Linked DNA regions of Homo sapiens: region 1 is linked to region 2. Evidence: fine-mapped expression QTL. Tissue or cell type: lymphoblastoid cells. Region 2 holds a variant in brackets; the other region holds the start of a gene. All regions are shown on one strand. Distances are between the middles of the regions.

Evidence for each region. PIP is the estimated chance that this variant, and not a neighbour inherited with it, causes the effect.
Region 1: it holds the start of TCF7L2, and the variant in region 2 is fine-mapped to the expression of TCF7L2 in lymphoblastoid cells (TwinsUK, PIP 0.95).

The regions. Positions count from the first base shown.
Region 1 is chr10:112,946,248-112,953,428 of GRCh38, forward strand. It overlaps TCF7L2 (transcription factor 7 like 2), which reads left to right and starts at 4,000. Exons shown (of 15, transcript NM_001367943.1): 1 at 4,000-4,698; 2 at 4,960-5,026; 3 at 5,236-5,360. The coding sequence starts at 4,510. It overlaps LOC124902502 (a long non-coding RNA gene), which reads right to left and starts at 6,095. Exons shown (of 2, transcript XR_007062291.1): 1 at 5,531-6,095; 2 at 4,382-4,760.
Region 2 is chr10:112,920,200-112,927,380 of GRCh38, forward strand. LINC02935 (long intergenic non-protein coding RNA 2935) reads left to right here. Exons shown (of 3, transcript XR_001747706.2): 3 at 6,930-7,181. Among named protein-coding and RNA genes, the nearest start is that of TCF7L2, 26 kb to the right of the region's middle. The variant C/CA (reference allele first, on the strand shown) is at 4,183.

The DNA of each region.
Region 1 (7,181 bases), 26 kb after region 2:
TGTTTTTCTCAAATTCCAGAGCCAAGCTTTCAATATGGTTTGTCTTCTTTGCTGGTGTGCGTGAATCTCTGAGCCATAACTGGGGCGTGTGGTGAAACGATGGAATCACGGACTTTTAAATATTAACAGGCAACTTAAAAAAGCCCATTCCAACCACCTCATCCACCAGGTGAGACAAGACGAAGGGGCCGTGGGTGACACAGCCTGTGGCAGGCCTATTTCTGCAGTCCCCTGTCAGGCACATTCCTGTATTTCAATGGGCACCTAACACTTCACCATATCTCCCACGTGGGGAACCAACACTTAAAAGGTGATTTGTGTAAACAGAAACCTCCTTTTCATGCTCATTGATAGGGATAAACAAGGAAGCACCTCTGGAAGAGGTAACACTACTCACTTAAGTTTTAAGGTATCAGCATGTATCCAAAGAGAAGGATTTAATCAAGGGAGGGCTGAAGGAGAGGAGAAAACAGAAGAGAAGCAGCAGAAGGGCAGTGGATGAAGAGGGCGAGGTCAAAGTCAGAGAGGCCTAGGGACAGCTACTTACAGTTCAGGACCTGGACTGGCGCCAGGAATGGACTCCAAGGGGTGAGGGCCCAGCTTCTCCCTGCCTTCCTCCCAAAATATGCAGAGACCTAACTGGATTCCAAGGGATGAGGGCACAGCTTCTCCCCCCTCCCACCCATTTCCCAACATGCAGAGCCCATGGTGGCAAAATCCCCTGGCTCAGGCTAAAGTCAGAACTGGTCTGGTTTCCTGTGTTTTTCAAATCTCTGCCATTTGGGCAGAACGCTTGGTCCTATAAACCAGGAGTCATCAGTATCCACAGAGAAGTTGCCTCAGCACTTGGACCCAAGTCAACTGTGTTTAAAATTTCACACCAAATCTATAAATTACACATTCACATTGTGGGCCAGCCTACCTTTTTTTTCAAATAGTATTCAAGGTATTTTTCTTTTTTTTTCTTTTCTTTTTTTTTTTTTTTTTGAGACGGAGTCTCGCTCTGTTGGCCAGGCTGGAGTGCAGTGGCGCCATCACGGCTCACTGCAAGCTCCGCCTCCCGGGTTCACGCCATTCTCCTGCCTCAGCCTTCCGAGTAGCTGGGACTACAGGCACCCGCCACCACGCCTGGTTAATTTTTTGTATTTTTAGTAGAGACGGTGTTTCACCGTGTTAGCCAGGATGGTCTCGATCTCCTGACCTCGTGATCCGCCCGCCTTGGCCTCCCAAAGTGCTGGGATTACAGGCATGAGCCACTGCGCCCGGCTATTCAAGGTATTTTTCAATACCTTGCTGCCTGGCTACTGCAGTGCCAATTCTGCCATTCCCCCCCGCTCCTCAATTCAGGCATCACCTGAGGGACTTGCAGAGCATCAGGGATCTGGCCCCTCTGAGATCTTGCTGGTCTACTCAAGCCTTTGTACAGCACCAGGCAACGAAATTAAATGTGGGACATGCACTATCACAGAATAACTTTTTAATTGCTTAATTAAATCAGAGATTTAAGGAAGGAGAGATTCAAAAGAGTTCCCTTTGAATGAGAAAAATAAGGATATGCCAAAATGGATAAAGTTACTAATCATGGGAACAAAGCCCTTAGTATTTACATATGATAAAAATGCAGGCCAGTATAGTAAAATCAGTAAGTACATTCTTTAAAATTTCAATTCAGTATATTCCTGAGATTTTATTATACAGGTAGTACTATAAAGAACATAGAAGACCTCATTATCCAACTTAATTCAGACCAGGGTTTGATTAAAAAAATAAAAAACAAAAAACTACCACACAGGACAAAGAAATTGCCATAAAATTGAGTTCCTATAAATGTGTTCCAGTTTAAGTAACTAAGTCCCTAAAATGAGCCTTAGTAAAGTCTACGCTGCATATAGACAGACTTAGGCACATCAAGTATACAGGTGACAATTAGCAAGTGTATAAAGCTATGGTCATTTCGCTAAATGTGTAAATCTAAAGGCAACCAAGTAAAAGACCTAAAAAAGGAAACTGTTAAGTCCATTTGTACATGGATTTAACAGTGAAGCATTTCATTCTTCATGTTTTCACTTGGTGTCTTGAAATAATCCCCTTTCTGTCTCCACTCTCCCTCTTAGACACTGCACCTGCCTTATTTATTTATGAAGTCTGAAGGTTAGTCCTACCTGCTGAGACTAATTAGCCCTGTGCTTTGTATCCTATGCAATCCTGTCTGATTAAATGTACACATTTGTTTTACTTCTTTTCAGGCTCCTTCTCACTCTACTTCTGATATTCTGATTAATATCAAAGTTGGGAGTTACAGTGATTCTCCTCTGCCTCCCCCCCAACCCATTTTTATTTTGCCTGCATCTTATTCTTTAGTGTGCAAATGTGGTTGTGATTTTTTTCCAGTGCAGGGGAATTCGTTGGCCTTGTCAATCTCGGTATCATTATTTTTAGTAGTCTTTCTGAGACTTTAGCCTATAAAACAGTTTTGCTGAAACCCCAAACTCTCTAAATATTACATGGCAAATTTGCTTTCTTTTGGAAACCTCGGTGCTGATGGGCCAGCTGAAGTGCAGGTGAGCTTTTTCAGGGAAGGGTGGGACAACAGTACATCCTGGACTCTAGACTAATACTACTCCTAAGAGGCAATTTGCTAAATCCTACTGATTTATTTTTTTCTTTTTTCTCTTTTTCATGTTGTAGTGTCCAGTCTACTTCTTACTGGGTATTTGCAAAAATGAATTTTCTTGCTCTATCACCCAGGAACATTGTGTTTTGGGAGCTGGGTCTTTCCTCTTTAACATAATTCCATTCCCCATTTTGTAGCAAATCAGTCTGCTCCTCCTCTAATACCTAAAAGTCAACAAATACCTGCCTCAAGCCCCAGGTTTCCCATCTTCTCCCGAAGGTCTTCTAGCATCGGTTTGGTTAGCAATTTCCTGCCAGAGCCACCTACATCTTGATTATTTTGGTCAGTCTTTCGGGGATTTCATTTCAGACCCCCTTCGAGAAACACTGTAGCCCAACTGATCCCAGGGGTTGGTGAACTTTCAGTTTTATTTTCCCTGACGGTGTTAACGCCCAAACTTTTCACCTCCTAAGTCAAAAAGGACTTTGACTCTAGCTCATTTCCTACTACCTCCAACGTCAGTTAAAAAAAAAAAAAAAAAAGCAAAACACCACTCTACATTTAAAAGAATCATATATTTTTCCTTAAGGATACTTTTAATGTTTCTGACATTTAGCATTTGTTTTTTGCATAAAAAGTCGTTTTGGCATATCCATCCTAGTGGGACTTAACATTTCATGAAATGATTCACTACTAATAAACAAAAAAGGGAGGAGGGAGGCCTCATGGGTTAATAGTTTCTTTCATTGTAGATGACCAGGAACTTTGACCAGCCCCTTCACTTCCCCAAGCTCTCTGAAAGTGGAGGGTTGATCTTTCCTTTTGACCACTTTTGTCGCATCCCGTCTAAGGGTGGCTGATTTCACTGCTGAATTAACCACCAAGCACCCCCCCACCCCCTCCCCCAGCCACCACTTTCTCAAATACTACCCTTCCTTTTCCCCCTCCCTTAAGACTTATTTCTAATATTTCTAAAGTGCACTGTTTTGGGCCTCTCCCCATCCCCGCCCCCCAAGTGGGCTTTCCTTCCGCCTTCCTCGGCTCGGATTCCTGACTTGGTCGCCACCCCCTTCTCCTCCTCTCCCACCCCGCATTGTCTTTCTGAAACCGCCCCCTCCCGGAGCAAGTCCCTGCACCCTCGCCCAGAATCCCGGGCTCGCACACACTCCGCGCAGGCCGCTCCCCCTGCACACTCCTCCCTCCGTCTCCCCCCGGCTTCCCCGCCCCTCTCTTCCTCCTTCTTTCCCTCCTCCCTCTCCCGGCGCCCGAAAGGATCATTGTTAGCCGCCCCCGCCCCGCCCACCCCGGCTGTTTATTTATGCACACGTCACTGGGCCGGCCCCGCCCTCCGGCATCTCATTAAGGCAGTGTGTTCCTCTCGCCCTGTCAATAATCTCCGCTCCCAGACTACTCCGTTCCTCCGGATTTCGATCCCCCTTTTTCTATCTGTCAATCAGCGCCGCCTTTGAACTGAAAAGCTCTCAGTCTAACTTCAACTCACTCAAATCCGAGCGGCACGAGCACCTCCTGTATCTTCGGCTTCCCCCCCCCTTTGCTCTTTATATCTGACTTCTTGTTGTTGTTGGTGTTTTTTTTTTTTTTACCCCCCTTTTTTATTTATTATTTTTTTGCACATTGATCGGATCCTTGGGAACGAGAGAAAAAAGAAACCCAAACTCACGCGTGCAGAAGATCTCCCCCCCCTTCCCCTCCCCTCCTCCCTCTTTTCCCCTCCCCAGGAGAAAAAGACCCCCAAGCAGAAAAAAGTTCACCTTGGACTCGTCTTTTTCTTGCAATATTTTTTGGGGGGGCAAAACTTTTTGGGGGTGATTTTTTTTGGCTTTTCTTCCTCCTTCATTTTTCTTCCAAAATTGCTGCTGGTGGGTGAAAAAAAAATGCCGCAGCTGAACGGCGGTGGAGGGGATGACCTAGGCGCCAACGACGAACTGATTTCCTTCAAAGACGAGGGCGAACAGGAGGAGAAGAGCTCCGAAAACTCCTCGGCAGAGAGGGATTTAGCTGATGTCAAATCGTCTCTAGTCAATGAATCAGAAACGAATCAAAACAGCTCCTCCGATTCCGAGGTAGGAAAAGCCCCTCGGGCTGGTGGGGTTTTTTATCTGTTTCCTGGGCTTGGCAAATGTTGCTGAAAGGGGAGAAATCGGGGCTGGGGGCGGCGGCGGGGCCCGGCGGGCGGCGTGTGCGTACGGTGCCACCATTGCAAAAACTTGTAACCCTGTTTTTTTCTACCCCCCCCTCGACCTCGCCGATTCTTTTTCTCCCCCTTCTCCCCCTTCTGCGTGGCGTTTGCCCCTCGCCCTCCCCACCTCCACCCCTCTGGGAAGGCGGAAAGACGGCCTCCGCCTCGCTCCGAAAGTTTCCGAGACAAATCCCGGGAAAGTTTGGAAGAAGGTGAGTACGCCCCGCGCGCCCCGCAGCCGCCCGGAGCCGCCCCCCGGGCCGGCCGCCCCGCGCGCCCCGGCCCCGCGCCCGGCTCGGCCTGGCCCTGCGCCGGCCCGGTCGGGGCGCCCGGCCCCTCGGGGCACTTTCTAAAAAGTTTCTCCTCACTCTCTCCCGCTCCGCGCGGCCGCCGCTGTCCCCTCGCCGCCCCGCCATGTTAGCGGCCAAGAGGCAAGATGGAGGGCTCTTTAAGGGGCCACCGTATCCCGGCTACCCCTTCATCATGATCCCCGACCTGACGAGCCCCTACCTCCCCAACGGATCGCTCTCGCCCACCGCCCGAACCGTAAGTGCCTCCGCGCCCGGCCCCCGCCCGCTGCCCGCCCGCCCGCGCCGCCCGCCGGGCCCCGCATGCGGCCCCTGCCCTGCCCCCTCCCCGCCTCCCCCTCCCCGCCTCCTCCCCTCCCTCCCTCCCCTCCCCCGCTCGTGGCCCAGGAGGCCCGAAACTCTCCAAACTTTTCTGCCTTTTGTGGACTGGATTTGTTTGCACTTCGCCACGTTCTTGCTTTCAGTTTGCTGCCTCGTGATGTTGGGGAGACCTCTCTGTCCAAGCAGGGCTTTGTTGGTGGGGAGGGGGGGGAATCCGAAGAACTTTCCTTTGCGTTCTGGTTCCCCCTCCCCCTTTGGTGGTGGTGTTTGTTTCTTCACCCTGGGAAGATGACTCTGTGGCTCTTCCTTTGCTCTCTCTCCCTCTCTCTCCTTCTCTTCCTTCCCTCTTCTGTGGCGTCTTGGGCTTTCCCCGGTTAACCCCTTGGCTGCCGCTGCGGGCCACGAGTGACTGACTGTGCTGCGCCCGATGCGCGGGGTAGAGAGTGGGTTTCCTCCAGGCATTGGACTTGAGAACTGGCTAGCGCGCAGAGCCCGGGGCCCTGGAGAGGCTCCTTGGCTTTCTCTTTTGGGCGACTATGTATTTAGCTTTCTAGTGGAGATTGCTGGCTCTCGGCCCTCCTTCCCCCTTCCCCTGGAAGGTCACACTTCCCAGATTGGTCCCACCGCAAACTTGGGGGCTCTGAGGCGTCCTTTTCTTTGGCAACCCGCAGGGCCGCGAGCGCCCTGGGCGCCGTGGCGGGCTCCGCTGCCCGGCGCACTGGCTGCGGGCTCTCCCGGGCCGCGCAGGGCAGCAGGGCTGAGTGGGGCGGGGAGGCCCCTGCGGCCCGGATTCTTGGTTTGTGTGCAGCCGGAATGGACTCCTCCAAGCGGACTTGTGTATTTCTAGGGAATTTTGGCGCCTTGGGATGTATGGCGGGGTCGGCGCTCGCCAGCTTCCGTGTAGGCCCGTCGTGGGCCCCAGGGGGGCCAGAGACCAGGGTGTGCGGGCTCAAGGAGGTGCGGGGGCCGAGGGAGGCTGGGGCGCCTCTCCTTCAAGGGAGTGGGCCGCCGATCGCCGGCCACCCAACTTTGGGGGCCCCAGGGCAGCGCGGGGTGCCGGGCTCGGGGGGCGCTTCCTGCAGGGTCGGTCCCGCGCCCAACCCTGACATTTGTTAATACGGCTCATCCCCTCCCCCACCGGCCTGTGCCCCCTGCCCTCACCCTGAACCCCCTCCTCCTCATCCCTCCCTCCCTCTTCTAAGAAGCCTGGATTACGAATCCCTGGACGCAAGACGCATTTGTGCCCGGCTTCCCGGTATTGTCATTTTACACCTTCTCCAGTTTGGTCCCCTACCCCTTATTTACACACACGACTTTTGTTTTTTCTTTTTCGGTAACTCTAGATAGCAATTTGAAATAATGCACCCACTGTTCAGCAGCCATGGATTCGGTGCTAATGGCCGAGGGCTTGCCGGACGGGAGTCGATCAGATCTACAAGTGTTTTTAAGCATTAAAATATTAACTATCAGGTTTGACTTGCTTTTTTGGGCCCTGGCAAAATGGCAAGGGCATGCTAGACCGGTCATTTTTTTTATGGCTAGGGAAGAGAAATAATTATTCCCCCCCTGCCCGGCGCCCAGACATGCTTGGGAAGCTGGGAGAGCGGTTCGGCTCAACCCCCTTCTCCAGGGCCAGTTCCACCAGGCTGCAGGGGCCGCGCTCTGGGCTTGCAGCTGTAGGGGAAGCACAGTTCGCTTACTTTGTATTTTTCTTGGGAGCTTGTGGGGCATCTTAAAC
Region 2 (7,181 bases):
TGCAGTTTATTTTATTTTGAGACAGAGTCTCATTCTGTCACCCAGGCTGGAGTGAGGTAGTGCAATTATGGCTCACTGCAGCCTTGACCTCCCAGGCTCAAGCAATCCTCCCACCTCAGCCTCTTGAGTAGTTAGGACTTCAGGCATACACCCAGCTAATATTTTAAAATTATTATTATTTTTTGCAGAGACAGCATCTCTCTATGTTGCCCAGGCTGGTTTTGAACTCCTGGGCTCAAGTGATCCTCCTGCCTTGGCCTCCCAAATTGCTGGGATTACAGGCCACTGCATCTGGCCATGTGTGTGGTTTAAATGAAGAGCATAGCACTTCTCTTTGGCAGAGACTGAGCTGAGGAGATAACAGAGCAGAACACAGGAGTACCTGTAGGGCAGGTGGCAATGGCCAGGCCACTGATTAGGCAGGTGGAGAAAGACTAAGTGGATGGTGTCTGTTGGAAAGTCCAATAGTATAGAAAAAAGTGTCAATGCAGAGACCACAGGTCTAGAGAATGAAGCCAGACTGTGAGCCTGAGGTCAAAGCAGGGAGCAGGCCAGAGATGGTGCTTGGGTGTCAAGGAAGGGCCCAAGCATTACAGTGTAGTGAGAAAAGTCTAGGCTTTGGAGTTAGGCAAACTGAGATTGAATTTTGCCTCTGCTTACTGGCCTCTCTGAGCTTTGGTTTAGTCTTTCCTAGCTGCAAAGTAGAGATAATAAAACCTACTAATTCTGGTTATGTATTGCTGTGTAACTATGTATCTCAAAATTTAATGACTTAAAACAACAGCCATGGTTTTATTTTATTTTGTTTTGTTTTGTTTTGTTTTTGAGATGGGGTATTGCTTTGTTGCCCAGGCTGGTCTCAAACTCCTGGGCTCAAAGCCATTATTTCTATATCTCACAATTCTAGGCAGGGCTCGCCTGGGAGATTCTTCCGTTCCATGTAGTATCAACGGATGTCACTTAGTGGTATTCAGCAGGCTGAGAGGCTGCTCTGGAGGGTTCAAGAGGGCATCACTCACAAGTCTGGAGCCTTAGTAGGGATGACTGGCAAGCTGGGCTCAGCTGGTACTGTCAATCAGCACACCTACACCATGACTACGTGGCATGGTGGTATTAAGGTAGCTGAACTTCCTATGTGACTCCAGAAAGCAAGGAGAAAGCAGCACAGTTTTGTTTTTTTTGTTTTGTTTTGTTTTTGTTTGTTTGTTTGTTTTGAGACAGAGTCTTGTTGTGTCACCCAGGCTGGAGTGTAATGGCATGATCTCGGCTCACTGCAACCTCCACCTCCCAGGTTCAAGTGATTCTTCTGCCTCAGCCTCCTGAGTAGTTGGAATTACAGATGCTTACCACCACGCCCGGCTAATTTTTGTATTTTTTAATAGAGACGGAGTTTCACCATGTTGACCAGGCTGGTCTCGAACTCCCAACCTCAGGTGATCCACCTGCCTCAGCCTCCCAAAGTGTGGGGCTTACAGGCGTGAGCCACTGTGCCCAGCTAGGCACAGCTTTTTATGAGCGAGCCTCTCACTGGACTCTGTTGGTGGATATATACACAGGACCAACGGGATCCAAGCAGAAGGGACATAAGCCCTACCTCTTGATGGAAAAAGCATTAAAGAATTTGCAGCCATGTTTTAAAATTGCTACACTGTCTTGTGACGATTGAGTAGACAGCGTTTAGCACAATGTCTGGCATGCAGTAGGTGCTCACAATGTTAGCATCTTTTCCTCATCTTATACCCGCAAGGAGAAGAAATGAAGTTTATGGTCTGGGATTTCACGCCAGAAGGTCCTGTATCAGTTAGGAAGTCTTAATCATAAGTAATAGAAAATATTCATAAGATGGCTTAAACAGGCCAGGCGTGGTGGCTCACACCTGTAACCCCAGCACTTTGGGAGGTCAAAGGGGGCGGATCACCTGAGGTCAGGAGTTTGAGACCAGCCTGGCCAACATGGGGAAACCCCATCTCTACTAAAAATACAAAATAAGCTGTGCATGGTGACGCGCGCCTGTAATCCCAGCTACCCGGGAGGGTGAGGCAGGAGAATTGCTCAAACCTGGGAGGCAGAGGTTGCAGTGAGCCAAGATCGTGCCACTGCACTCTAAGATGATATATTATCTCATATGACAAGAAGGTGGGAGTTAAGGCTGGACTGTGGCTCACACACCTGTAATCCCAGTGCTTTGGGAGGGTGGGGTGGGAGGATAGCTTGAGCCCAGGAAATCGAGGCTGCAGTGAGCTATGATCATGCCACTGCACTCCAGCTGGAGCAACAGAGCAAGACCCTGTCTGAAAAAAAATAAAGAAATAAGAAAAATAAGATTGGAGTTAGACTGATTCCATGGTTGGTAATTTAGCTGCCCAATCATATCTTCAAGGAATCAGGTTATTTCCCTCTTTTCATTTTGTTATCCTCAGTCTGTTTACTCATCCTCTTAGGTGAGATTCCCACCTAGGCCTAAGCTGGCCGCTGCAGTTCTGAGAGCCACATGAACATAGTAACATCCCTTAAGAAATCTATGTGAGTGCCAGGGTGGGGCTTTGGTGTTCCTTTTCATGAGCAATGAAAATGTTCTAAAAGGCTCCCCAGCAAACCTCCCCTTGCAACACATGGGTCCACATCCAAACCATTCATTTGTCAAGAAGAATGAGACCATCATGACTGGCTTAGATCCATCCAGATTTCAACCCTAGGGCCAGGGAGGAGTCCAACCTTCCTAAAAGGTTGTGATCACTTGGGGAAGGGGAACAAAGTCAGGATTCTATTACCGTGAAGATAGGAGAGAATTGCCATTGAGTAGACAGCCCACAGTGCCTCCCACAATCCCCACCATTGCTTACTCATCACACCGTTCATCCCGGACATGGCTTCACCATGTGTAGGGGGACTGAGCTTGGACATGGTCTTGGTGGGCATTAGGAGTCATTGTCTTGGAGATCGGTGATAGAGAATAGAGAATAAGGGAAAGAAGGTGCAAAGATAAGAATAGAAATCTAAATCCAAAGTATCTGGGACACTAAGTCAAAGCCAAGCCACCAGAATGAGGGCTTGAGAAGGCAAAGGTACAGCCATTTTGGAAATAGTACGGAGATAACTCAAAAAAACTAAAAAGCCACTGCCGGGCACGGTAGCTCATGCCTGTAATTCCAGCACTTTGGGAGGCCGAGGCAGGCAGATCACTTTAGGTCAGGAGTTTGAGACCAGCCTGGCCAACATGGCCAAACCCCAACTCTACTGAAAATTCAAAAAAAATAGCCAGGCGTGCTGGCGCACGCCTGTAACCTCAGCTTCTTGGGAGGCCAAGGCAGGAGAACTGCTTGAACTAGGGAGGAGGAAGTTGCAGTAAGCTGAGATCGTGCCACTGCACTCTGACCTGGGCAACAGAGCAAGAATCTGTCTCAAAACAAAAACAAAAACAAACCAAAAAACAAAAACAAAAAACACTAAAAAACTGAACTACCATTTGACCCAGCAATCCCACTTTGGGGTATATACCCAAAGGAATTAAAATCATTATGCTGAAGAGATATCTCCCCTGCCATGTTAATCAAATGTGGTATATAAACTCAGTGAAATACTATTCAGCTTTAAAAAAAACCTGGAAATTCTGTCATTTGTAGAAACATGGATGAACCTACAGGACACTATGTTAAATGAAATAAGCCAGGCACAGAATGACAAATACCACTTATGGATCTCAATTATATGCGGAATCTAAAAAAGTCAAACTCACAGAAATAGAGAGCAGAATGGTGGTTACCAGAGGCTGCGGCGGGGGTGAATGGAGAAAGAGAAGATGCTGGTCAACAGGTACAAAGCTTCAGTTAAGCAGGAGGGATAAGATCTGGTGTTCTATATACTGGATCGTGACTATAGCTACTAATAATGCACTGTAGGCCAGGCAAGATGGCTCACACCTGTAATCCTAGCACTTTGGGAGACCGAGACAGCAGATCACTTGAGGTGAGGAGTTCGAGACCAGCCCGGCCAACATGGTGAAACCCCATCTCTACTACAACTACAAAAAAAATTAGCCAGGCATGGTGGTGCATGCCTGTAGTCCCATCTACTCAGGAGCGCTGAGGCAGGAGAATCGCTTGAACCCAGGAGGTGGAGGCTAGAGTCAGCCGAGATTGTGCCACTGCACTCCAGCCTGGTTGACAGAGTGAGACTCCATCT[C/CA]AAAAAAAAAAAAAAAAAAAAATGCATGGTGTATTTCAAAATAGCTAACAGAGAGGATTTTAAATGTTCTCACCACAAAGAAATGATAAATATTTGAGTTGATAGATATGCTAATTAGCCTGATTTGCTCATTCCACAATGTATATGTGTATCAAAACATCACATTGTACTTCATATGTGTGTGTGTGTGTGTGTGTGTGTGTGTATCAATTGAAAATAAAACTTAAAAAAAAAGGTAAAGGGACCAAATGCTAGGCTGATCTTTACTTTTAGCCATGTTTTAGCTATTCTGGGGGCTAGGACAGAACTGAGATTAGTATGTAGGTAGAGTTGAGCCTATAAGTAGGAGAAATTATCTCCACCTTGAGACAAGAGAAATGTTGAAGAATGAGCAAGCCTGGCCAGGTACAGTGGCTCATGCCTATAGTGCCAGCACTTTGGGAGGCTGAGGCAGATCACTTGAGAATCACCTGAGGCCAGGAGTTCCAGACCAGCCTGGGCAATATGGTAAGACCCCCATCTCTAAAAAAATTTTTTTAAATTAGCTGGAGGGTGGTGGCACACACCTGTAGTCCTAGCTAGTCAGGAGGCTGAGGGAAGAGGATCACTCGAGCCCAGGAGTTTGAGGCTGCAGTAACCTATGATTGTGCCACTGCACTCCAGCCTGGATAGCAAAGCAAGACCCTATCTTTGAAAAATGAAAAATAATTTTAAAAAATTAGGGGCCGGGCGCGGTGGCTCACGCCTATAATCCTAGCACTTTGGGAGGCTGAGGCGGGTGGATCACCTGAGGTCAGGAGTTCCAGACCAGCCTGGCCAACATAGCAAAACCCTGTCTCTACTAAAAATACTAAAATTAGCCAGGCATGGTGGCACGCACCTGTAATCCCAGCTACTCAGGAGGCTGAGACAGGAGAATATCTTGAACCCGGGAGGCAGAGGTTGCAGTGAGCCGAGATTGCACCACTGCACTCCAGTCTGGGTGACAGAGCAAGACTCCATCTCAAAGAAAAAAAAAAAATTAAGGCTGAGGCAAGCAGATTGCTTGAGCCCAGAAGTTTCAGACAAGCCTGGGCAACATGGCAAAACCCTGTCTCTACAAAAATACAAAAAAAAAAAAAAAAAAAGAAAAAGAAAAGACTGATCATGGTGGCTCTTTCCTGTAACCCCAGCATTTTGGGAGGCTGAGGAGGGTGGATCACTTGAGGTCAGGAGTTCGAGACCACCCTGGCCAACATAGTGAAACCCTGTCTCTACTAAAAATACAAAAATTAGCCAGCCATGGTGGTGTGCACCTGTAATCCCAGGTACTTGGGAAACTGAGGCAGGAGAATCACTCGAACCCAGGAGGTGGAGGTTGCAGTGAGCTGAGATCGCAGCACTGCACTCCAGTCTGGGAAACAGAGTGAGACTCCATCACCAAAAAAGAAAAAAGAAAAATTAGCCAGGCATGATGGTGCATGCCTGTAGTCCCAGCTACTCAGCCGGCTGAGGTGGGAGGATATCTTGAGCCCAGGAGGCAGAGGCTGCAGTGAGCCAAGACCACACCACTGTATTCCAGCCTGGGCGACACAGCAAGACTCTGTCTCAAAAAAAAAAAAAAAATATATATATATATATATATATATGTATATATGTATGTGTATATATATATGTGTATATATATATGTATATATATGTATATATGTATATGTATATATATGTATATATGTATATATATGTATATGTATATATATGTATATGTATATATATGTATATATGTATATATATGTATATATGTATATATATGTATATATGTATATATGTACATATGTATATATATGTATATATGTATATATGTATATATATGTGTGTATATATGTATATATGTATATATATGTGTATATATATATGTATATATACGTATATATATATATATATATATGTCATCCCAGCACTTTGGGAGGCTGAGGCAGGTGGATCACAAGATCAGGATATCGAGACTATCCTGGCTAACACAGTGAAACCCCGTCTCTACTAAAAATACTAAAAAAATTAGCCGGGCATGGTGGCACGCGCCTGTAGTCCCAGCTACTCGGGAGGCTGAGGCAGGAGAATGGCGTGAACCCAGGAGGTGGAGCTTGCAGTGAGCTGAGATCGTGCCACTGCACTCCAGCCTGGGTGACAGAGTGAGACTCCGTCTCAAAAAAAAAAAAAAAAAAAAATCAGAAGCCTGACTTTTTTGGCCCCATTCTCTCCCTTGGAAATGGACCCTAAAATCTATGGACAGCAGCTTTCTGAGTCTTTTGGGAGACTCTGAACTAAAGTGGTAAGAATCACTTCACTGGCCCGATTACCTGCTCCCACATTGCTCCTAGAATAAAGACCCAAATCCCTAACCCAGCCTCTGAGACTTTGTGTGGCCTAGCAGGGCCTCTAAGTATGATTGTGTAGGTGTGCCCTGCACAAGAACATTTGGCTGAGAGATGAATGAGGGCTGAAATCCAGTCCTCACTCCAGTAACCAAGCATAGGCCCCACATCTTTGTTTGCCTGGAGAGATTGCCTTTTCTAGAGTCACTGGGCTTGTAGCAAGTTCTGGATCCAGCTCTTGCTCCCTTTCCATTGCCAGGTCCCAGAGGTACTTGTGCCCTTTTCCACTGGCCTTCTCAGAGTTCCCCAGACATACTGTTATCTACAGCCACCAGAGCAAACCACGTCAGTACTGAGTGGCTTGAAAGGATGATATGATATTTATTTTGCTCACAGATCTGAAATCCAGGCAGCGCTCACTCCACTTGGCATCTGCTGCAGTGGCTCAGAGGCTGGGTCTGGAGTCATCTGAAGGCCCTTTCACTCTTGTGTCTGGAGGGCAATTGGCCCTTGCCAGCTGGGACTTTTCCACGTGGCTCCATGGGTGCCTCACAGCATGGTCCTGGGTCCCAAGAAGACGAGATAGAACATTTTTAGATTTAGCCTCAGAAGTCACATGGCATCACATCTGCAGTAGGCCCACTGGAT